3 linked regions of the Homo sapiens genome follow. The protein of the gene in region 1 interacts with the protein of each later gene in a pairwise test. Each region holds a gene or a part of one and is shown on either strand. Other genes may lie near its edges.

Region 1 (7,818 bases):
CCCTGCTTTGTCACTCCCTTGCAGAAGTTTGTTGCAAAAGTCTGAGACTCAGTTTTCCCTTTTTTGAAAAAAATTTTTTATTTATTTGTTTATTTTTAAGACAGAGTCTTGCTCTGTCGCCCAGGCTGGAGTGCAATGGCACAATCTTGGCTCACTGCAACCTCCGTCTCCCGGGTTCAAGCAGTTCTCCTGCCTCAGCCTCCCAAGTAGCTGGAATTACAGGCGCACGCCACCACACCTGGCTAATTTTTTGTATTTTTAGTAGAGACGGGGTTTCGCCATGTTGGCCAGGCTGGTCTCAAACTCCTAACCTCAGGTGATCCACCTGCCTCAGCCTCCCACAGTGTTGGGATTACAGGCGTGAGCCACCACGCCTGGACTAGTTTTCCCTTCTTTAGAATGGGGTCATAATAGTATCTACCTCAGAATTACTCTAAAGATTAAATGAGAAAATCCACGTAAAGTGCTAGGTATGGTGTTGGGCATGTAGAATACTCCAAGTGGAGGAGTAATGCAGTTATGCAGATTGAAGAGGCAATGTGATAAGTATTCAATGGGAGTAAGTGTAAGGTACAGCACGGGAGAGTGAGATACCTAACTCAGTCTAGGGGTGCATTTTTAAAAGAGGTGATATTTAAGCCAACAACTGAATCACTGGTAGAAATTAGCTGAGTGAAGAAAGGAATGCTATTCCAGCAGAGGAAATAGCTGCACAAAGCCCATGAAGCAGGTAAGACAGCCTAGTATTTTGGAGGAACTTTAAGAAGTTCAGTGTAGTTGTAGTGATGTGGGGGAAAGGGGTAGGAAATAAGACTAGAAAGGTAAGCAAGGGCCAGATCCCAAAGGGCCTTGTATGCCTTTTTGGGGAGTGTGACTTCATCCTAAGAGTAGTGAGGGAGCCAGTGAAGTGTTTTGTCCCATTTGTGCTTTGGAGTGCTTACTGTGGGGTGCTGTGAGAATGGATTGAAGCAGGAGAGACAGGAGGCAGGGATACCGGTTTTGACGCTATTGAGGTAATCTAGGCTAAAGAGAACTGTGACCTGGTAGAGGAGATTTGAGAAGCACTTGGGAGGTAGATTTGAGAAAACTTGGCCTTAGGTTTGGATGATTAAGCAGAACGGAGCTCCATTCACTGAGATGAGAACACAGGGAGGCATGGGTTTGGAGGGAAGGTCCAGTAGGCTGCTGGATATGTGGGTCTGTAGCTCAGGAGTGATGAAGCTGGAAAGATTTGAAAGTGTGAGCACAGAGGTAATTGAAGTCTGGGGATGGTTCTTGGCTCATTGTTTATTGGTTGCGTGCTTCTCTCCTATTTCAAGTGGCTCTGCTGGTGAATGCTTGAACTGTTCCTCTTGTCTTCCTGTGATTGTTTAACCCCTTAGTTTGGGCTTCCCACCTCCTCCTGTGCACTTGAAGGGTAGCTCTGGGGTACAAACTTGTCTTTGCAATGCTCCCTCCTCCATTCGTCATCAGGGCTCAGCTTGGAACAGCCGTTGATACCTTTAAGCTTCACAGGGGTCTTGAGGTTAGAAGACTTGAGTCCTCAGAACTGGAAAGAAAAAAAAAATACCGGACTTTCTGAGGTGGTTATTTGGGAGGAGGTAAGCTCCCTACTGCTTGCGCAAGTGCAGGTAGAGATTCCAGGTGGTTCTGCAGAGATTCCATTATTAACTGAGAGGTTGAACTGAAGAGTCTTTGGGGTGTCTTCCAAAATGTGGCTTGGCTCTCAAAGTGACTCTAGGTGCTGGGACGAAAAAGAATGAGATTTTTCTAAGAGTCCCTGATTTCTGGGCTTGAAGGCTCTGAGAGATCACCCAATCCAGCCTTCCCCTCTACCTCTGTCCACAGTAGAAATTCATTATATTTGACAAAGACATTTAGCACAGTCCCTCACACAGACACATGCTAGGCACTCACTCATTTATTGAGTGAACAAACAGAAGGGGGTAGTGTAGAGTCATGCAGACCCTGACTTGAATCCCAACTTGCCCATTCTAGCTGCATGATCTCAGGCATGTTATTAAACTCTCTGCCCCTTAATTTTCTCATCTGCAAAATGGAGATGACACTGTTTACCTCACAGGACTGAGGATTAGTGAGAGCTGGTTGAACTGGAAGCACCTAGCAGAGCCTCAGTAAATGTTTGTTGCCCCCAGTCCCCCCAGGGCATCAGATGTAGCTTATTTGCAATCAGCCAGAGCCCTAGAGATAGTTTTTCTGTGTTGCTTCAGAAGCTGCAGTTACTGAACTCTTCCTGTCCTTCCCCTCCACCTGCCTTCACAATCCTGTTTATCAGTATGAAATAACTCTTGGAAAAACTCTAAAAAGGGCTGGGAGCATGGAGTAGTGTAAAAGAACGTGGAGTCAGGGATGCTGTTTTTCATTTCTGGTTCAGACCTTTGCTAACAACTCAGTGACACTGGGTGACCCTCTGTGAGGTGGGGACCACCTCATCTTCTTCCCCAAACTTCCTGTGCAGCCTGCATTCTGTCTCAGTTGGCTCCACCTCCTTCATCTTGTGCAAAAGCTAGAAACCCGAGTCATTCTGAACACTTTCCTCACTCCTCCTCCATCTCTTTCCTAATCTAATTAGTCACCAAGTCATGTCTGGTCTATCTCTGAAATAGCTTCAGAATCCATTCCGTTCTCTTCATCCCCAAGTGTGCTGTCTGGTTCATGCCCTGCCTGCCCAGCACCTGGGCTACTGCCTCCCTCACTGGCTCATCCTCCACACCGCCGCTGGTTACTTCTCTAAACAAGGTTCTCATCACGTTCCTCTCCTATTGGAAACCCTTCTATAGTGCTCTGTTTTCTCCGGCATAAAGCCCCAACAAAACTCTTTAGAGTGGTGTTCATTTGTCCAAATATTTGTGGAGGCTTGCAGGTGCCAGGCACTGTGCTGGGCCCTGGGGTGCCATGATGAGTGAGGCGCAGTGTCTGCCCCTGGGGAGCTTACTGTTGGGTGGGGGAGATGCTAGACAGAAACTACTCTTAGACACTGATACCTCACGGCTAACTGAAATGCAGGGGGAGAGGTGCTTGGTCAACGAGTGTATAGAGGGCCTGCCTTTCTGGGTTCACACTGCATTCTTGGCTCTGCGGTTTAACTCATTCCCTGAATGCACTATGCTCACTCTTAAGTCTGTGCGTTTGTCTTTCTTCTCTCTTCTGTCTGGAGTGTCCTTCCCTGCCTGCCTTTTGGAAAATGTCTATGCATCCTTCAAGGACCATTTCCAATATCACTGCCACTTCCTCCAGGAAGCTTTCCTTGACCCACTTCATACATTGTTCATTTATTCATTCTGCAAACAGCACAAATTCCTCCATCTAAGCTTCCTTGATAGCACATAAGTAGATTTTTCTGATGGCACTGATCAGATTGTATCACAATTATCTGTGGGCCCCTTAAGGGCAGGACTTCATTTACTTGTGTCCTCAGATCTACTACAGAGCCTAGTACAATATTGTCACTCTGAAAATGCGTGCTGAATGAAGTCCTTTAACAGCTCCGTGGCTTAGTTTCTTCATCTGTAAAAGAGGGCAACTAACATCTTCCTTTTTTCTGTTAGGAGGCCATTGGCAAGATTCTGCCTGTAGTGTTTGTGTTTGTGAAAGTACTTTGTAAACTACAGAGGAGGTCTTCAAATGCAGGACAGAAAGGAAAGGGTTTAATTGCTGCCAGACTACAATAGCCAGAAGGGCAGGAGACCTGCCTGGCAGCACCTGCTTTGTTGGCCTGGGGATGTTTCCTAGGTGGTTTATAGGTGGTTTCCTAGGTGGGTTTTCCTAGGTGCCAGGTGCGGTTTATAGCTTTGCTCACAGGGCTTATAGTGGGGCAGCTACTTCTGGCTTCGTGTCTGGCCTGTTCTTTGGGTGTGCCCAGATTCTGCAGAGTTCCCACTCCCTTTCCATCCTATGCTGGAATCCTGAGCCCTATTGCTTAATGAAGGAGTGTTGTAGCAGGAGGCAGGGGGAGTCATTGGGTGCAAGGGAGTGGTCCAGCCTTGTCTCTTCCTCCAGCTCACAGCATTACTTGGGCAAGTCCCTCCCTCCCTCCCCCATCTGTAAAATGGGGGTTAGGTTAAGTGACTTGTCTTCTGGGTATTTCTCTTGTCACACCTCTCCAACCCCTTGGGAATCCTGTTCGTTCTCTAAGTCCTAGCTCAAATGCCACTCTCATGGAAACACTCCCTGATTTTACCCTCCTTCCTTTGCAGTCCTATGGCACATGACTTATGTCTCCATTTCAAACACCTGTTTTCCTTATGCTGTTTTGTTAGACGTTACACAGTGTCTACATGTTAAGTCTTGTTAACTGTGAGTGCCTTCAGATTGCTTCACTCTCCTTTATACCCCACCCCGCACAGTTCACCTGGCCCAGGACTTTGCTGATAACAGTAATTAATATAGCAATAGCAGCTATGACTTACTGATCATTTGCTTTATGCCAGGCACTGTTGTAAAAACTATTTTTCTTATGTGAGTGGTTTTCAGACTGTCTTTTCAGTCACTGTGAGGGGTTTTCAGAGCCCCCTCAGAATGTAGCAAGGGAGGGGGTTCCATATTGTAGGGGCTCTGGAGCTCCCACCTTACTTCAGCCAGAGCAACTTTCTTGTATTTGTTTTATTTATTTTATCAAAGGATTCTTTCTTTCTCTCTCTCTTTTTTTTTTTTTTTTTTTTTTTTGGAGACAGGGTCTCCCTCTGTTACTCAGGCTGGAGTGTTGTGGCACAATCACAGCTCACTGCAGCCTCCAACTTAGGCTCAAGTGATCCTTCCGCTTTAGCCTCCCGAGTAGCAGGGACTACATGTGTACCACCATGCCCGGCTGATTTTTAAAAATTTTTTGTAGAGGTGGGATCTTACTATGTTGCCCAGGTTGGTTATCAAAGGATTCTTTAGCTAAAAATTAAACTGACAGAATTTTGCTGCATTTATTTTTTATAATCTGCAGAACAGTCCAGTGAGGAAGGAATTGTTCTATTTGTGAGGAAGCAGGCTCAGAGAGATGAAGCCACGGGCCCACAGTCATGAACTTAGCTGATGGGAGCAGAGTTTTAAATTGAGATCTGTGTGAGCCATTCTTGTCTGTGAAGGAGTCTTGCTAGTAGCTATGACAGCTTCTAGGGTAGAAAAGCTCCCAAGGATTGCTGAGTGGGTGACAGGGCCTGCTTCCTGCCCTCCCCACAAAAAAACCTCATGAATTTGGCCTTAGCCTTAAGAGTAATTATTTCAAGCTATCAAACACAATAAAAAGAGAAAGCCCAGGCTCTCAGTGGCTTGGCCACTGGTGCACTTACAGGTTGATCTAGAACGTATCTAGATGGTGCCGTTCTCGGAGCTGGGCCTAGCTGCTGTCTGTGCCCTTGAGCTCAGCTTGTCTGCAGATGTGTTGGGGCTGTGCTCTGCTGGGTCCTGTGCTAGCCATTTAGGGAGATGGAGCGGAACACTCCGAGGGCTACTGGTGTGGGAAGATGGATGAGAGAGGGAATGCCCCCATGTATGCTCTAATGCACAAATGCCCTGGACATAGAGCCAAGAGACCCAGGTTCTGGTCCCAGCCCCTCCACACAGCCTGTGTGTGACTTTCCTGGACTTGAGTCTTGTCCTCTGTAGGAGGCTATTATTAATAGTGTTTATTGAGTGCTTAATTTGTGTCAGGCCCAATGTCAAAGGGCTTCACATAGCTGGCCTCATTTCATTCACAAACTAACCTGAGAGGTAGCTATTATTATTCCCATTTTATAGCAGAAGATGTTGAGGCTTAGAGAGGATAAGTCAGTCCAGTTAGTAAATGGCAGAACCTGAACTTGAACTCTTGAACTGGTTGTTTTTTGTTTGTTTGTTTGTTTTGAGATCGGATCTTACTCTGTCACCCAGGCTGGAGTACAGTTGTGTGATCATGGCTCACTGTAGCCTCGACCTCCCCAGGCTCAGGTGATCCTCCCACCTTAGCCTCCTGAGTCATTGGGACTATAGGTGTGCGCCACCACACCTGGCTAATTTTTGTATTTTTTAAATAGAGATGTAGTTTTTCTATGTTGCCCAGGTTTTTAGTAGAGATGTTGTTTTTCTGTGTTGCCCAGGCTGGTCTCTAACTCCTGGGCTCAAGCAGTCTGCCCGCCTCAGACTTCCAAAGTGCTGTGATTACACAGCTGTGAGCCACCACGCCTAGCTGTTGAACTGGCCTTTGAAAGCATTGTATCGTATTGCCTTAGGAATAGGGTCTCCCCTGCCTGCCTCACAGAGTTGTGAGTGAGGATAGGGAAATGTTTTTACATCAGGGTAAGGAAGACATGCTGTGGATGAATCCATGCTATAGCTATGTCATTTGTGACTGATGAGGGTCAGGGGTGTGTGTTAGAGACTGCGTTTGCCCCATGAGTTCTGCAGATAGAGATGGGAGTACCACAGGATGGGCATTTGGAATTCTGTTTGATTCATTTGCCTATTCATTCATACAGGAAATATTTACCAAGTATCCATTCTACACTGGGAGCTGGGGATAAAGTGACAAACCAGACAGGATCCTAGCCCTTGTGGAGCCCCTTGATGTGCAGGAAAGGAGAGTTAGGAAAGGAGGATTTCAACCCTGACTCTGCAGGTCATTGGCGGGGTGACTTTGGGTAACTCGTTGCTCCTCTGGAAGCCTCAGTTTGCCCATCTGAGCAGTGAGATCATAATTCCAACCCTACCTATAGGATCAGTTGAAAGGATGGTGGTGGAAGTGCTTTATGGTTGTAAAGTGCCATACTCTGCCTAGTTTCTGGCCTCATCATTCTGACTGATATCTTGCTCTTCCTGCAGGGCTGCCCAGGAGCTGCAGGACAAGCACCAGGAGCCCCTCCGGGTAGCTACTACCCTGGACCCCCCAATAGTGGAGGGCAGTATGGTAGTGGGCTACCCCCTGGTGGTGGTTATGGGGGTCCTGCCCCTGGAGGGCCTTATGGACCACCAGCTGGTGGAGGGCCCTATGGACACCCCAATCCTGGGATGTTCCCCTCTGGAACTCCAGGAGGACCATATGGCGGTGCAGCTCCCGGGGGCCCCTATGGTCAGCCACCTCCAAGTTCCTACGGTGCCCAGCAGCCTGGGCTTTATGGACAGGGTAAGTAGTAATCTTGGACTCCGGGTACCTCTGACGTGGTTCTGAGTTATCCATGGCCAGCCTTTGTCCTTCCTGTGGGTGTGCAGGCAGCCTGGTCTCTGGCACCTTAGCATCTTGCTTCCAGCTTCAGTGTGTATCCTCAAAATGATAAGTTTGTCAGCTAGTTTTGTTGCAAGCATTTATTTGTATTGCTTGCTCATGCTTACTTTCTTTTGCTTACATGTCAGCAGCTGTTAGCTGGCTGTTGAGTTTCTGTTCCCTGTGTCTTTTTCATTCAGGGATACATGCTGAAGGAGCAGCTCCTGTTTGGGATATGTTATCTTTGTGGCAGAGAGAAGGAGCAGGAGAGCTAGCAAGAATGCACAATGCCTCTTAAAGCTTCTCTGAAGTACTGTATGTCTTGCCCACTTGCATTCTTTTGGCCAGAGCACCCCCTGATCAAGACTGACATCAGTAGGATGGGAAAGGATGCCCCTCTGCAAGCCACCAGGCAGTGGGAGAGGATGTACAATGCTCTTATAGGGAAGGGGAGATTAGCAAGTAATCTAATAATAGATTATTGAACTGGCCTTTTAAACCATTGTACCATATTAGTACAATGTCTGTGGGTGTGCAGACTGTGTCTCCTGGCTAGAGATTATTAGCCAGGAGACGATAATGTAGCCTACCATGGGGAGAAACTCAGTTTAAATATCCGTTTCTCTGTGAAA
Region 2 (7,818 bases), on another chromosome or scaffold:
TCCACAAAATGAATTATAGGTATCAGGAAGGAAGAGTCTTAGGGGGAAGTGGGAGCTGTGAAGAGGCACAAAGAGTTTCTGGCTTTACTCCAACATGTGAGGGCCATTCTCAGCAACCACAAATTTATTCTCAATGCTTCAGAATCTCCTCCTCTCCATCAAGACTTATGTATCTAACTAGATATCACCCTTTTAATATTCTGAACCAACTCTATCAGTCCTGGATTACAATGTCGCAGGTCTGCTGTTGCAAATCTTTGAAAGAGCATTAGCTCTATTCAAGAGTCTGCTATCTAATGTCACATGGAGCAGTTCGAACACTTAACACAAAAAACAATCAGTAGTCACATATCTTACTCATTACAGAAAAAGAGTCTAGCTAGAAGATTAAGAGAATAAGATCTTTAAAGTTTCTGGCTAACTTGTTAAATTGTTAAAAAGACATTTTTAAGCCCTTAAGTCCTTTTTTCTTAATTATTCCACAATTGTATGGGTCCATGCATTCACTGTAACAGTACTTAATATGATCAACAAAATGTATTCTTCTTAGATTGGGGATCCAGCCATTGTTTTAAATATTACGCCATCAGTTTTGACTTCAATGACAATTATATAAAATTTACTCCAATGCAGAAGTTCAGACAAGTGGATTGAACATATTTGGAGCCCAGGATGAGGTATGAGAGTTGATTTGAAATAAAATCCTTTCAATTCTTAAAAAAAAATTTCCATTTGCTTCTTTACCTTCATAGGCAAGTACAGTAAAAAAATTCTCCACTCGGATGGCAACCTGGTAGATTTCACACCTTGTACAACACAATAATTGACCCTTGAACAATGTATTTTTACCTCCTGTGCCTCCCTAATCATGCTAGAAAATATTTCTGCAGCTTCAAGGAATTGTTCAAAATTAAGAAAGAAGTGCAGATGGTTAATGGGTACAAAAAAGATAGAAAGAAAGAATAAGACCTACTATTTGATAGCACAACAAGTTGATTATAGTTAATAATAACTTAATTGCACATTGTAAAATATCTAAAAGGGTATAACTGAATTGTTTATCACTCAAAGGATAAATTCTTGAGGGGATGGATACCCCATTCTCCATGATGTGACTATTTCACATTGCATCCCTGTATCAAAACATCTCATGAACCCCATAAATATAGACACCTTTATATACCCACAAAAAATAAAAATAAAAACAAAATTAGGAAAGAGAAACAAATGAGTAGAGGAGGGCATCAAGGGGGCCGTGTGAGGGCTGCGGGGGACCAAAAGGACAGAGAGAACTTGACAGAAGACAGCCAAATGCAACGTTTCATATGTCGACAAATCTGAAGATGCATATCTAAACTCAAAGCAGGTGGTTCTCACTGATTCAGATACTTATGTAAATAGATCAAAGCAAAATCAGAATAAAATCCTATGAAGAGTTATGGTTTGCTCCCGCCTTGCTCCTGTCTCCTTAATGGCCCATCATATTGAAGCAAGGATACCCTCTTGAGCCATCTACCCATGATAGTCCCTGTGGGTAAACATTGGCAATTAAGAGGTGAAGACAGGAACTCATTCTCCAATTTTATAGAGAAATAAGATCCTGTGCCCAAAAGAAAATGATATGCTCAGTGACCAGTCGAAACCTGTAGTATCCTTTGTTCCAAAGACATAATACCTTGTTGTTCCCCGTATTCTATTACCAATCAATTTTGGTTTGAATAACCCAGGTAATTGGAATATGCCCATACACCATGCAGACCAGGTCAAAAACTCTTAGACGGAGCCTGTTGTCTCTCATCCCTGAATACCAAAATAGCCACAGTCTTTTGCTGAGTGTTCAGCTTTCAGAGACTTCAAGGTCAGCCCCTACACAGGCTTCCATGACAACATTAGGATTTAAAAAGAGGTAGTGATGTTAATGAAACGATATCTGAAAAGGATAAAAGTCATGTTTAAATCAGAGAACCACTAAACAAAATTCCATTATAGCTAGATCTAAGTGGATCTCATTATAGCAGTCCCAAAGATAAATAACTAAGTGAAGAGCCTACCTATTCCTGAATTAGCTCCAGTGACCACAACCACTTTGCCAGTGAAATCCCGGCCCTGGAGAATTTCCATGGCAGTGGTGCTGCCGTCGTATCTTTGCCGGGTGGTTGGCTTGGTCGGATTATCATCCACAGTAAACGCCAGTCTTGGGTCCAAGTAGGTGGTTCTTTTATTTATATGGCTGCCCAAAAGAGAAAGCAGTGAACCCACAGCAATGAACACAGGCATTTATAAATATAAGACAATCTTATACTTTAGGAAAACCCCATTTTTCATAGACCAAAATGCTTATTCCTTAAACCTGAAAGAACTGGGGCCCACTGAATCTATCTTCTGGCCTCCAGAAGGATCACATTTGTGCCAAAAAAAGATAGTCATCGAATCCTTTCCTTCAGAACTGCCTATAACATACGCTGTAACATACAATAACTATTGCCATGTATCCTTAGATCTCAAAAAAGGCTTCTTGAGAAGGTTTTGGGCTTTTATGTAATTCATGTAAATGTAGCTATAAGATCTGTCAGCCACTCTTTTCAGTAGATTTCAATTAAATCTCTTAGCCCTGTGCAAGGGCCTAAAGACGTAGAGAAGTAGAAAACTCAAAATGATAAAGTCTTAGTTGTAAATAAGAAACCTGCCAACTACCAAAATTCTAACGATTTTCATTTTAAGACTCTGCACTCATACCTCCTACGAGCACTCATTTTGATTTGGAATTGATCTAAATCTTGTAGAAATGGTATTAAAATATACTGGAGGCTGGGCACAGTGGCTCACGCCTGTAATCTCGGCAATTTGGGAGGCCAAGGCAAGAGGACCACTTGAGCCCAGGAGTTCAAGACCAGCCTGGGCAACATAGTTAGACCTCATCTCTACAAACACTAAACAAAATTTCAAGTGTGATAGCACACGCCTGTAGTCGCAGCTACTTGGGAGGCTGAGGTAGGAGGATGATCACGTGAGCCTAAGAGATCAAAGCTGCAGTGAGCCATGATTGTGCCACTGCACTCTAGCCTGGGTGACAGACCAAGACCCTGGGTAACCATTAAAAAAAAAAAAAAAAAAAAGGCACATATGGATGAAAAGAGTACTCCTTATAATAGAATTTACTTTTTATATCTTAAATGTATTCTTGGGATATGAGATAAAGACCTCAGAATATCTTAAAAACTATTAAGAAGCCTCTAAATATAGATGAAATTTCATATTTTAAAAGTATGTGTGTGTAAAATTAGTTTAAAATATATACTCATCTCCCTATAAGTACCAAGACTCAAGAGTAATAATCCAACCTTTATTCTAATTATTACCATCCTCATCCTCATTCTATTTATAACAACCTTAATTTGTGACCCCAATATTATACACACACAACAGAGCAGTTCTATGCTAGACTGGCTCAAACTGGCTTACAAGAGCCAAACGTGACTATCTCTTCCCAATTCCTCACTTCACCTTGGCAGCATGAAATCAGCTATGGCCAAAGTATTTATACTGTGGAAACAAACAGTGGCTTTTTTCCCCCTGAAGACCTGGTGCTAAACATTTACCAGCACCCCACTGCAACAGGCTCAGAAAAGTGAGAACTAGCCAGGGGAGCCAATTTCCAGGTTCCCCCCAAAGCCCTTGCTTACTCCTCTAGATTAGACCAGGAGCTGGCCAAATCTGGCCCACTGCCTGTTTCTGTAAATAAAGTTTTATTGGAACACAACAACGCCCATCACTTGTATATTGTGTATAGCTGCTTTAGCACTACAAAGGCAGAGTTGAATCATTGCAACAGAAACCATATGCCCTGCAAATCCTAAAACATATTATCTAGCCCTTTACAGGCAAAGGAGACAGCCCCTGCTCTAGACGGGAGGCTCTCAAGCTAGGGAACATCAGGATCCCCTGGATGACTATTAGAGCGCAGATTGCAAGCCCCACCCCAGTGCTGATTCAGTAGGTCTGGGGTGGGGGCCTGGGAATGTACATTTTTATTGAATTCCCAGGTGATATTAATGCTGCTGGTCCAGGAACCATGCCTGAGAACTGCTGCTCTTGGTTGATTAATACCCATTTCAGGGAGTAACTTTCCAAGCGTGAATGCAAAGGCAAAGACTGCACAGGAGAAAATTGATTTGACTACATAAAAAATTTAAGAAATTCAGTCAGGTGTGGTCGCTCATGCCTGTAATATGAATGCTTTGGGAAGTCAAGGCAGGAGGATCGCTGAAGGCCAGAAGTTCAAGACCAGCCTGGGCAACATACTGAGCCTCAGTCTCTACAAAAAAAAAGTCTTTAAAAATTAGCTGGGCATGGCAGCATGAGCCTGTAGTCCCAGCTCCTCAGAAGGCTGAGGCAGGAGGATCACTTGAGTCCAGGAGGTTGAGGCTGCAGCGAGCTGTGACTGTGTCACTGCACCTCAGCCCTGGATAAGAAGAGCAAGACCCAGTATAAAAAAAAAAAAAGAAAGAAAACTTGGAAAAAAAAAAAAAACATTTTCAACATTTTCAACATACAACCAATGCGTTGATACCCTTAATTAGTTGAGGAAAAAAAACTTTCACAAGTTAGGCAAAAAGCCTTTTAACAAATAATAGGCACTCCCACCTATCCAACTGCTAGACAGCCCCGTCTTCCTGGGGCTGCCTATGGTGGCCTGGGAGACTTCTCTCAAGCAAGCTTTGGCCTATTTGCTCTCAATATCAGTTTTGCACCAAAAGTTCACCAGGTTTGCTCAAAAAACACACATGTCATTTGAACTTGTTACTGTAACTACATTACCAGCAAGCTACTATTACACAAACTGATAACATGGGAGGTGAAAAATAGTGTCAGTGGTATCTATGAAAATGTGGTCGAATGCTTTGGAGAGCCTCAAAGACAAGCAGCTAAAAAAAAAGTTTTGGTTCAATCAACTACAGTGAAAATGCTAGAAAAATACCATAAAACTCCCAAATGATGTAGCAATCAGATTCTTTGAAAATACTGTGTTTGCTCAACCTTAAAGTTGTAGGGTCCAGCCCTACTGGGCTTAGCGGGTGTTCTCCCCGTGTGCAGAGACGAGGGATTGTAATAAATAAAGACACAAGACAAAGAGATAAGGAGAAAACAGCTGGGCCCAGGGTGGGGGCCACTACCACCAAGATGTGGAGACCGGTAGTGGCCCCGAACGGCTGGGCACGCTGATATTTATCGCATACAAGACAAGGGGGCAGGGTAAGGAGGGTGAATCTTCTAAGTGATTGACAAGGTGAAGCAAGTCACGTGATTACAGGATAGAGGGCCCTTCCCTTTTAGGTAGCCGAAGCAGAGAGAGAAGGCAGCATACGTCAGCATTTTCTTTTCTGCCCTTAAAAGAAAGATCAAAGACTTTAAAACTTTCACCATTTCTTCTACCACTATCTACTACGTACTTCAAAGAGGAACCAGGAGTACGGGAGGAGCATGAAAGCGGACAACGTACGTGACCATTGAAACACAGCACCACAGGGAGGGGTTTAGGCCTCCGGATGACTGTGGGCAGGCCTGGATAATACCCAGCCTTCCACAAGAAGCTGGTGGAGCAGAGTGTTCCCTGACTCCTCCAAGGAAAGGAGACTCCCTTTCGCGGTCTGCTAAGTAACGGGTGTCTTCCCAGACACTGGCGTTACCGCTTGACCAAGGAGCCCTCAAGCAGCCCTTATGCGGGTGTGACAGAAGGCTCACCTCTTGCCTTCTAGGTCACTTCTCACAATGTCCCTTTAGCACCTGAGCCTATACATGCCAGTTATTCCTAGGTTATGTTAGTAATGCCACAAAGAGTAATATTAAAAGCTAATGATTAATAGTGTTTATAGTAATGATTGATAATTGTCCATGATCATCTCCATATCTAACCTGTATTATGACTATTCTTATTCTAACTACTTTCTTTATTATACTGAAACAGTTTGTGCCTTCAGTCTCTTGCCTCGGCACCTAGGTACTCTTTCGCCCACATAAAATGAAAGTAGAAATTGTAGATGTTATGTTACAGGCATGCTTAGGGGAAGGAAGACCACACTGGATCCATGCAAGTGGACTCACACTCAGAGGAGGGCTGGCCCGACCCCTAAATGTTGGTGTACTTGAATCAAATACTGAAACGTTTATGTTACATTCATAACTTTAAAAAAAAAAAAAATTCCTGCTCAAATCAACTTCTATTAACCAACCAATCCTAATCCTGTCAAAGACTATTCAAGCTTCTAATTTAAATGTTGACAGTTGTGAAACATTAATTCTCCTCTTAACTACGGTGGTCAAGAGTACAGTCCCTGGAGCAGGTGCTGGGCTCAAAGCCTGGCTGTGCTACTTCTTTGCTGTGGGATCCTTAACAAGTCACTTACCCCCTCAAGTCTGTGTCACTGGCAGTAAGCTAGGGATAATAACAATACTACCTCTCAGGGCACTGTGGGGATCCAATGACCTAATGCTACAGATACAAGATGATTAGAATCAGGCCTGGCTCATGCTATATGTTGGACAGGTGGTTACTATTGCTGCGTGATACCGGAATTTATCCTAAAGACAGAATCAGAGAGGTGAAAAAGTCTTACAGATAAGGATGCTCAATACATTATTTATAATTATAGGTTCTCTATAACAGGAATTTAGCATTAATGTCCAATAGGCAATTTGATAAATTATAGTATATCTGTACAAAATAATAACTCTAGAGCTGCTAAATAGCATCTTTTTGAAAAATAGATATGGATACAAGAAAATGCTCATAATATATTACATGGAAAAAGCAGGTTACTAAACAGTCCACACAGTGCATTCCCTCTTTTTTTTTTTTTTTTTTTTTTGAGAAGGAGTCTCATTCTGTCACCCAGGCTGGAGTGCAGTGGCGCGATCTCAGCTCACTGCAACTTCCGCCTCCTGGGTTCAAGTGATTCTCCCGCCTTACCCTCCCGAGTAGCAGGGACCACAGGCACGTGCCACCACACCCAGCTCATTTTTATATTTTTAGTAGAGACGGAGTTTCACCATGTTGGCCAGAATGGTCTCGATCTCTTGACCTCAGGATCCACCCACTTCGACCTCCCAAAGTGCTGGGATTACAGGCATGAGCCACCATGCCTGGCCTCCCTACTTTTTTTTTTTAAGGATGCGTGTGCGGGGAAAATAGAAGAATAAATCTAGCGATGTTAAAAGTTCCAGCGATGTTAAAAGTAGTCACTTCTGCTAAGATTACAGATACACACTGTTATACTTTGTATTTTTCTACAGTTACTATGTATTACTTTTATAATTAAAAATTCCTATTAAAAAGCAAAACAGCTGAGAGTGGTTTCTTTGCAGACACTTACTCAACAAAAAACACTTGTCCGTTCTCATCAGTTTCTTGTTCCCATCCGTATGGCAAATCTGAAACACAAGAAAGACAGGTCTACAGGTGCCAGGGAGAAGTAAAGACCATCCCTGGGTCAGGAAGGGAAGGAGCCCTCCCAGCCCCGCCCCCAAGCCTGTCCCTCCCACCCAGCAGTTGTCACATCAACTGGCTTTCGTCACATGTTCCAACTGCGACAGCTGCAGAAGGCCCCTGATCCCACCCTGGGCTCCACATTTTTGCCTCTTGTTTTGAAGAAAACCTATTTTATTCCTGATCGCTCTATAAACCATACTGGTTGTGCCAATCCATGGGAATTCTCCCTTGAATGAGCTCAAAGAACATATGTATATGCAGGGCAGGCACCCAACGTCATTCATACGCTGACCTCATATGACATTAGAGGGCACGGCCATTTTTTTTCATGT
Region 3 (8,085 bases), on another chromosome or scaffold:
CAGGCAGCATAGGCGGAAGGGCAGATGGGGCGCCCCGGGGAAAACAGATCTCCGGCCACATCCAAAACACACCAGCCACAGGCGGGTGAGAGAAGCAGGGCCACAAAGCTGGACGGAGCAACCAGGATGGGGCCGAGTCCCTCTACCTCCCCACTTCCCACAGACCCAGGACAGAACCAAGTCCCTCTACGTCCCCATGCTTCCCAGCAGACCCAGGGAGTGACCAGGATGGGGCAAGTCCCTCTACGTCCCCATACTTCCTGCAGACCCAGGGAGTGACCAGGATGGGGCCAAGTCCCTCTACGTCCCCATGCTTCCCAGCAGACCCAGGGACCCAGGGAGGAGAAGATCAGGCCCTCCCTTCCCTGGAGCACATGGAAGTCCCAGGAGGAGACAGGATAGAAGGAACAGCTCCCATGGTGGCCTTTGCCCAGGACTCTCCCTTCCTCGAGCCACACTTCCTCCCTCCCGAGAGCACACGTCCTCCTTTTCACAAAAGCAGGCACAGCCCGGGGGCCTTGAATCAAGCTCATCCCTCAACACGTGGGTTTCTCACCAACACAAGGGCCTGGGAAAACTTCGAACCCCGTTTGCAAACAGCCCCCATTGTTCTTAGGGCTAAAGCACAGCCTGGCGCCGCTCCCCAGGCCAAAGGCACCCCACATGCACACCCAGGACTCACCTGAGAAAGGGGGCAGCCCACCCCGCACCTGGCACAGCCCCAACAGTGCCTCACACTTGTCCGTGCCCAGGGACGTGCAGCTCGCGGGGTCCCACTGCCTGGAGGACGCAAGGATGTGCGGCACGGGCTCTGGGCTGGCCGACGCTGGATCCAGGGACCAAGGACTTTCCAGAAACGCCTTCACATCTGGGGTTCTAGAAGGAGCAACATGACAAGGATCCTGGGTCTATTCCCCAGCCCCCTGGAAGGCTGCCCCCACCCACCCCAAGAGCAGAGGGCTGGACCCATCCCCAGGACACCCCAGGCACCACCCAGCATCAAGCCAGCCTCTGCCCAGGGGCCCTGGGCCAGCCAAGCTCCACAGCTGTCTACCCAGTTTCCCTCTGCCCAACTCCTCCGGTTCTAGATTCTTCCACAGCTAATTAGCCACCAGTCCCATGCCCCAGCCTGCTTTGGGGTAAAATGGGTACATTTAAACACAAGATGCAGACAGTCCTTCAACCTGGGGAGCTGCCATTCTGAAAAGAACCAAATTATCTTGACTTCAGAAAACTGCATTCCTGAAGCTGCCCATGGGGAGGAGTATGACACCTCACTGACCACCTGTAAATTCCCCACACACAGGAGCAGAAGAGATCCTCCCGGGCACCTCCCACCTCCACACCAGCCCAGGCCCTCAATTCTGCTGACCGCGCTCCCCCCTTGCTGGAGCTCGCCCATGTTGGTCACCTCACACCTGGCCACCTGAGTTGGCAGGGCCCTGGGCAGGTCACCACCTGCGGAGGCCAAGCCGGGCCTCCAGGCCACACCCTCCCGAGGACATGCCAGGGGGCTTTGGGTCTGCTGCTCCCAGGGTCACCCAGCCCTGGAGAGCGGGCCCCAGGAGACACTAACCGAGTCCCGCTGGACGCTCCCGTCCCAGGGTCTGGCACACCTGCTTGAATCTGACTCGACAACGTCAACTGTAAAACATCCTCCTGCAACGAGTGCCACATTTCCTTGGAGGAAGCAAGAATCTGAAATTTAAGTAAACATGTAAAACAAAGACAGAGACAGTCAGCTGAGAAACCCAAGACACGGTGACAAGACTGCTACCCCAGGGCCTGGAGGGTCACTGTGAGCTCGGTCCCCGCTTGGAACTTGGGGGCGAGAGTACAGGTTGACAACGAGGCTGAGGTTCCACCCCCGAAAGGCCCCACCATTCCTGAATCAGGCTGTGCATACCCAAGGGCCTCACTGCAAATGCTGGGACCCCTGACCTCACAGATGACAACACAGTTTCATTCCCCACACAGGTCCTCAGCCCCAGCACTCACGGGGTCAGCCAGAGCCCCCAGAGCCTTGGAGAGGGGAGAGGAGCCTCTCTCTTGGAGACGTGCAGAGAAATGATCTAGGGGGTGCTCAGCCAGGGAGGATCAGGAGACCCCAACTCTCCCCCAAATTGGCACGGAGCATCTCGGCAACCCATCAATGAACAGGACTCAGGGGCACAGGAGGGCTGGAAAGGAAGGCTTGCTCCTTTCCAGGAACAGAATAACAACAGGTAAGGCTTGAACAAATCAGGAAGTGCCCTGCCGAAAACGTGGCCTGCTCTAGCCGTGGAGACCCAGAGGGCTGAAGGAGACGGGGATGACAGGGGACACACTGCCTGCAAGGTGGTGAGATGTCCCATCACCGTGATGCCGGAGGACTGACGGCGTCTACCCTTACAACTCACAGCGTGCTGCTCCTGACTGGGCCCCAGGGCGCTGGCAAGCCGCAGGAACTGCACAGACATCTCCAGGACCGAGGCCATGTCCTCCCGCCGGCCATCGAACTGGGGCAGCAGGGCCCGCAGACGCTCACAGCTCAACGACATCCGCTTCCTGGTTCCGGTCAAGAAACAAATACCTCTGGGCCCTCCTGCCCTCCCCGAGAAGGGACAGCAACTGCTAGAACCTGCCAGATAGACCCTGGGCGCTTGTCAGGCAGAGGGGGCTACAAGATGACTCAGAGCTGCCCCCGTGGTCTGAAGCCCCGAGATCCACATCAGAGCACAGCCTGGGCCTGACCCCTGGACCTCGGCGACAGGCTGTCCAGCCCAGGCCCAAACCATGGCTGCTTTGCGGTGTGGAAAAGACAGCGAGGGTCAGAGGCAGTCAGAAGCACAGAGGGTCACAGGTGCACAGCCTCAAGAGGCCAAGGCTTCAGGATAAAGAGGGGCTGCAGGATGTTCCCCAACAGGGCTTTTCTGGTTTACTTGGAGATGTGCAGTCTGTCCTTCTCCTGGGCACAGGCCACGAGCCCCTCCCAGCTGCCTGACACCTGGTGGCAGCCCCGAACATAATCTCACCCGCTCCACCCCTTTACAGCGCCCTCACCCCTGGGAGGCACCACCACTCACCTGCGCTCCCTCTCGCTGATCACGTTCCGCCGAAGGCAGGAGCTGGGACCCTCGGCCACCGTAGGGGCCTTGGGCGGGCCCGAGCCCCGGGCCGAGTCCTCGCAGCAGGAGAGGGCACCAGACAGGGAGCCGCTGCCGAGAAAGCCAAGAGCACCGGGCCCTGAGAACCCCAGAAAAGGCCACCAGGAGTCCCAGATGCCAGAATGGGCGTCTTTGGGGTGCGGGTGGAAGCCAAGACTGGGTCACGTAGGGACACGGCCCGGCCCTCTCTGCACCCCTTCCCCTCTCCCAGGGTCCAGGGCTCCGCCCCAGGAGGCCCAGGATGGGTGGAGCCCAGCAACTTGCGGAAGAACCCCTGGGTACAGGCCTTGGGCCCCCAACCCCTTGGCCGCCAGCCCAATTCCTCACTTGCATCCCCTGACGGTAGGGATTCTGGAGACCTCCGGGTAGGGCTCGGAGCACCGGGACGCCATGAACTCGCAGCTGCGGAGCGACCCCACGCGCACGGCCCCTTCCGCAGGCAGCCCCGCCCCCTCACGTGTGCTCTGCCCACCTGCCACGTGCTTTCCACCTAGCCCACCCCACCCCCACTTGCAATCCGCCCCCATAGCGCATGCGCTCTAGCCCTCCCCACGCAGCCAGCCCGGGGCCCACGTGACCCGCGTTCCTGCAAAGAAGGTGCTGGAAAGGGACTCGGGGGGTCCACCCACTCTATGCCCCCGCAGGACGCCAGGGGAAGGGGCCCCAGCCCAGGTGGCCCTGCCTCTACCCTTACCTTCCCGGGGGTCGCCTCGGTTCCCACTTATGCGGTGGTCTCGGTGCCCTTGGGCACTTTGGAGATGCGGGCTCTGCCCTTAGGAGCCCAGCCCCTGGTGGGAGTGGGCGGGCTGGGCTGAGTTGTTTAGCCCAGGCCTGGGGGACCCAGGGACACAGGGAGGGGGAAGGGTACCCGCCTGCTCCCCAGTCGCCCACGCCTCCATTTTCCCCCAAATCTAGTACGCTTGCAGACGCTGCGCCTCAGGGTAGGGTCACCATCCACACTTCTGGGTCGCCCAGAACCAGGGGCATCTTGTCCCCACCCCAGGCCACCATCGTCCGTGCTCTTCCTCCCGCTGAGCTCTGCCGGGCACCCTCGGAACCGTCTGTCCCTTCACCTGGCCCTGCCCAAGCACCATCCCCGCTTTATGCCCTGGGGCCCCAGCTCGACCCCTCACCTCACACTCTCAACAGGTTTCTGCGGGATCGCGGGGGTCCTGCCCATCCAAATTCAGAAAGCTCCGGCGCCAGGTGTTTGCTCACCTCCCCGCTGAACTCCAGGAGCCGCCCTGCGCTGGGCTTGAGTCCCCCAGTACATACTTTTGGGGGGATGACGGAGGGAAGGGGGAGGTGGAGACCCTTCCTCTTTCACGGAGGTTGCGGGGGGCCCTCAGGGAAGCAGAGGGGACGAGGGTGGGGGGTGAGGCTGGACTGTTGGGAGGACATCCCTGGCCTGGCTCGTGCTGAGGTCGTAGCGGGAGGAGGTGGGGTGGGTGGCAGGGGCTCTCCTCCCGAGAGGGGAGGCAAGAAGGAGCCCGGGCAGGTGCCACCACACGGGGACGTCTGTCCGGGGTGCCCCAGTCTCCTGTGGAGAAGGCGCGGCTCTGGGCCTCGGGCTGGCATCCTGGACTTTGGGCCAAAGATGGGTGAAGGGTGTTTGGAGCAGAGGGAGGTTATGTAATATAAGGTGGTGTCTCCATCCCTGCTCCGCCCAGCCTTGGCTGCAGGTCAGACATGGAGGAGGACGGGGTTGGAGAGGAGGGCAAAAGCTCTCGGGGACCTGGGCCCCTCTCCCGGCCCTGCCCCTGGCCAGGGAGGGATGGACGGGCTGGCGATCTGGGGCTCCTCAGTGGCAGAGTGGGGCCAAGTTTTTGTTTCCCTAAAGCCCTCGGAATGTCATCAAACCTGTGACTCTCCTGCCGTTGACAACACGTGTAATTACTGCTAATTAATCACAGATGCAGATGGTGCGGCCTCTCAGTTTTTTCTGAGTTCCCCAGGCAGGAGGGCGTTGGCAGAAAGGCCACCATCTTGCCCCGGCGGCACCCGCCCAGGGGTGGTGGGACCCCGGCAGCAGCACCGGCCAATCTAGGGACCTGAGGAAAAACCCCCAAGATGCCCACGAGCTGTGTGGCGGGGGCACAGGCTGAACCTCTGCTGGGGACTTAGCATCCTAGACTTCCCCGAGTGTTCCCCACCCACCCCTCAAAAGCATCTGTGTTCAGCCTGCTGCCTCCTGGAGAAACAGGGAAGGACCCTCTGGAGAGACACTGGGGAGGCCAGGGACCACAAAGTACATGGCATGCGCCCTCCAAATGGACCTGGCCCTCCCCCTGGCCCTCGTGGGCACAGTCCTGGCTTAGTGAGGGGCCTGGTCCACCCTGCAAACCAACAAAGCTCTGGGGACAGAAATCGCAGTTCTCCAGAGCTCTGTGTGAGGCTGAGCCAGGGTGACGCATGTGTAACAGTGTGAGCACGTGCACGGGAAAGGGGGCCCGCAGGGGGACCCTCTGCTTCCTAGTCTTTGGCCTGCAGCATCTTAAGTTGGGGCCCCTCCCCACCCGTCTAAAGGTGCTGTGTGTGCCCGTCTGGGTGAGAGCACAGGGCGGGGTGCAGTCATCCCCCTCCCCCAGGCCAAGCCCAGGATGTGGCGCCCACCCACAGATGCCGCAGCCTGCGGGGGGTGTGGGGGCGGGGGGGCGGGGAGTCGTCTTGAATCTGGCTTGTGTTCAATGACCAGTGTTGACCACGGCAGAGCAGCACAAGCGGGAGGTGCTGACGGTCCCTGGGCGCAGCGGCTGGACGCTGGCGGTCCGAGCAGCGCATGTGCCCTGCTGCCCGCCAAGGACCCAGAGCCCCCTGAGCCCCCGCCCACCACGGAGCCCTCCCAGGGGTGTAGGGCCCGGTGGCGGCGCGCTTGGGCTTTTCTAGCCATTGACGAACCCCGTCCTGTTTTTCGGAGTTTTGAGGGCTCAGAGGGCCGCGGCGGGAGCGGATCGCCCTCCCTACCCCGCACCCCCGTCCCAGCCTGGGCCAGAGCCGCCGCGGGTCCCGGCGCGGCCGGCAGGGGGCGCGCGCGGACAGACGCCTGCACCCGACCCTGGAACTGGCGTCTTTTCCTCGCTAATCTGCGAGGAAAAAAAAAATGTTTTTCAGGGCAACGCGAGGGAAGAAGGTGGCGGCTCCCACTCGCTTCTCCCTCGGGTCGGGTCCGAGCTGCCAGGCCGCATGCCACTCCCTGACGGGGCGCGGACCCCGGGGGGCGTCTGCCGGGAGGCGCGCGGCGGGGGCTACACCAACCGGACCTTCGAGTTTGACGACGGCCAATGCGCCCCCAGGTACAGTCTGCTGCGCCCTCCCCACGCGGGGAGGCCCCGGTCTAACCTAAGACCCCCAAGTTCCCCCTCAGGCTCCCGCACCCTCCAGGACCCGCCATTCCCAGGGCCATCCAACTTCCCCAGGACCCGCGAGTGCCCTCCCAACCACCTTGGGGAACAGGGGCGCCCCTCAGGGTGGGCCGCACTAATCAGCAGGTGCCGAGGCAGCAGCGTCCGTCCCCATCTGTCCTCGACCTGGTAAGAAGCTGGGGGGAGCGGCCGTGGCTACATGGGGGTCCTGAGCATCTCCCAGGTGTGGGGAGTGGCAGGGAGGCTGGGGGCGGTGCAGGGCCTTCCATCTCCCCCAGCCCCTGCCCCACCCCAGCTTGGGGAGGAAGGTTCCATCCTTCTTGTGTGGCATGGCAGTGCTCGGCCAGGGTGGGGTGCCCGGCGAGGTTACCCCACACAGTAGGGGGTTTCCAGAGCAACCTTCCAAGGAAGAGTCCCCAGTGGGAAGTGGGCTAAGTGGCTGTCAGATGAGGGCGGGAGTCCTGGGTTCTGGTCACTCCTCGTTCCCCGCTGGCCTATCCCTGGGAGGAGAGGGCCAGTTGAGAATGGCATTCAGGTGACCTGGAGCTAGCTGTTCCCTGTGCAGTGTCCTGGGATGCCATGCGTCTGCCGTCCACCCAGTGACCAGTGCAGAGGCACGGACCGGCAGCTGAGTGGGACAGTCCTGAGCGGAGGTTGCCCCAGGGTCCAGGTTCCCCATCCTCTCCCCCATCCCTCAGCTCTTGAAAACAGGCAAGTCTGCCCCTCACCCTGTCCCCAGAGCCAGACTCCAGGGAACCCTGGGCAGAGCCGGTCACTGCCTTGGGCGAACCCCTCCCCACCAGGACAGAGCCCTTTCTTCTGGATCCTGCCCAGTCTCAGGCTGTCCTGAGGCCAGAGAAGGGGGTGGAAGAGCATACCTGAGAGCGGGAGGCCTGGTGCGGCTGCCTGTTTGTTCTATGGGACTCAGTTTCCCCGAGTGTAAAATGAGGAGGTAGGGCGGATGGTCTTTAAGGGCTGCCTCTGGTGAGGGACCAGGCTGGAGAGGAGGTTCCCAGAATCAAGAGGCAGGCACAGCACCCACCTGGCACCCGGGGGAGTCCGGGGTACAGCGTGTGTGAGGAGCAGGTGCTCTGAGGGTGGACAGTGACTTGGTGATGTCCTTGGGAAGTGGGCACAGCCTGGACGTGCTCTGAGGGACTATCCGGGGGATGCCTGTCAGGCACAGAGAAAATGACCCCAAGGGGGTCCTGGATTGCCCTCATCTTTGTGGGCTGGCCGGCCCCTACCATCTCCCTCCCCAGCCTAGCGTTGCCCTCCCTGGCCATTCTGCTGGAGTTTATCACCTACCCTGCTGGGCCTGACCTGCTCCAGACGAGCCGGCAGGACAGTGTCCTCAGGGTCCAGCCTTTAGCTCCAGGCCTCATCCTCCGGGTCCTTCCAGACACCTGTCTCTCCCAATTGGCCCTGCCCACCGGCCCGGGACAGCTCCTCCTCCCCGCTGGACTGAGCTGGCCTCCGTTGCAACAGAGATTCCCTGTCACACTGCAGGCAGAGCAGCCGCCGGCAGTGGAGGGATGTCAGGCGTCAGGCTTGGGGAGGGAGCAGGACCTGGGCTT

The links.
Region 2: the proteins of PEF1 (region 1) and WWOX interact in binary tests that used the Homo sapiens proteins (3 or more experiments, as listed by UniProt).
Region 3: the proteins of PEF1 (region 1) and SOHLH1 interact in binary tests that used the Homo sapiens proteins (3 or more experiments, as listed by UniProt).

The regions. Positions count from the first base shown.
Region 1 is NC_000001.11:31,634,512-31,642,329, reverse strand, and holds part of PEF1 (peflin), read left to right. Parts: exon of another isoform or gene 1-721; coding exon of another isoform or gene 722-730; intron 731-6,807; coding exon 6,808-7,108; intron 7,109-7,386; coding exon of another isoform or gene 7,387-7,484; exon of another isoform or gene 7,485-7,664; intron 7,665-7,818. UniProt on the Homo sapiens protein: Calcium-binding protein that acts as an adapter that bridges unrelated proteins or stabilizes weak protein-protein complexes in response to calcium.
Region 2 is NC_000016.10:78,109,388-78,117,205, reverse strand, and holds part of WWOX (WW domain-containing oxidoreductase), read right to left. Parts: intron 7,429-7,818; coding exon 7,371-7,428; intron 2,231-7,370; coding exon 2,052-2,230; intron 1-2,051. UniProt on the Homo sapiens protein: Putative oxidoreductase. Acts as a tumor suppressor and plays a role in apoptosis. Required for normal bone development. May function synergistically with p53/TP53 to control genotoxic stress-induced cell death.
Region 3 is NC_000009.12:135,695,930-135,704,014, forward strand, and holds the start of SOHLH1 (spermatogenesis- and oogenesis-specific basic helix-loop-helix-containing protein 1), read right to left. Parts: upstream 3,553-8,085; 5' UTR 3,539-3,552; coding exon 3,474-3,538; intron 3,198-3,473; coding exon 3,066-3,197; intron 2,548-3,065; coding exon 2,400-2,547; intron 1,699-2,399; coding exon 1,577-1,698; intron 877-1,576; coding exon 683-876; intron 1-682. UniProt on the Homo sapiens protein: Transcription regulator of both male and female germline differentiation. Suppresses genes involved in spermatogonial stem cells maintenance, and induces genes important for spermatogonial differentiation.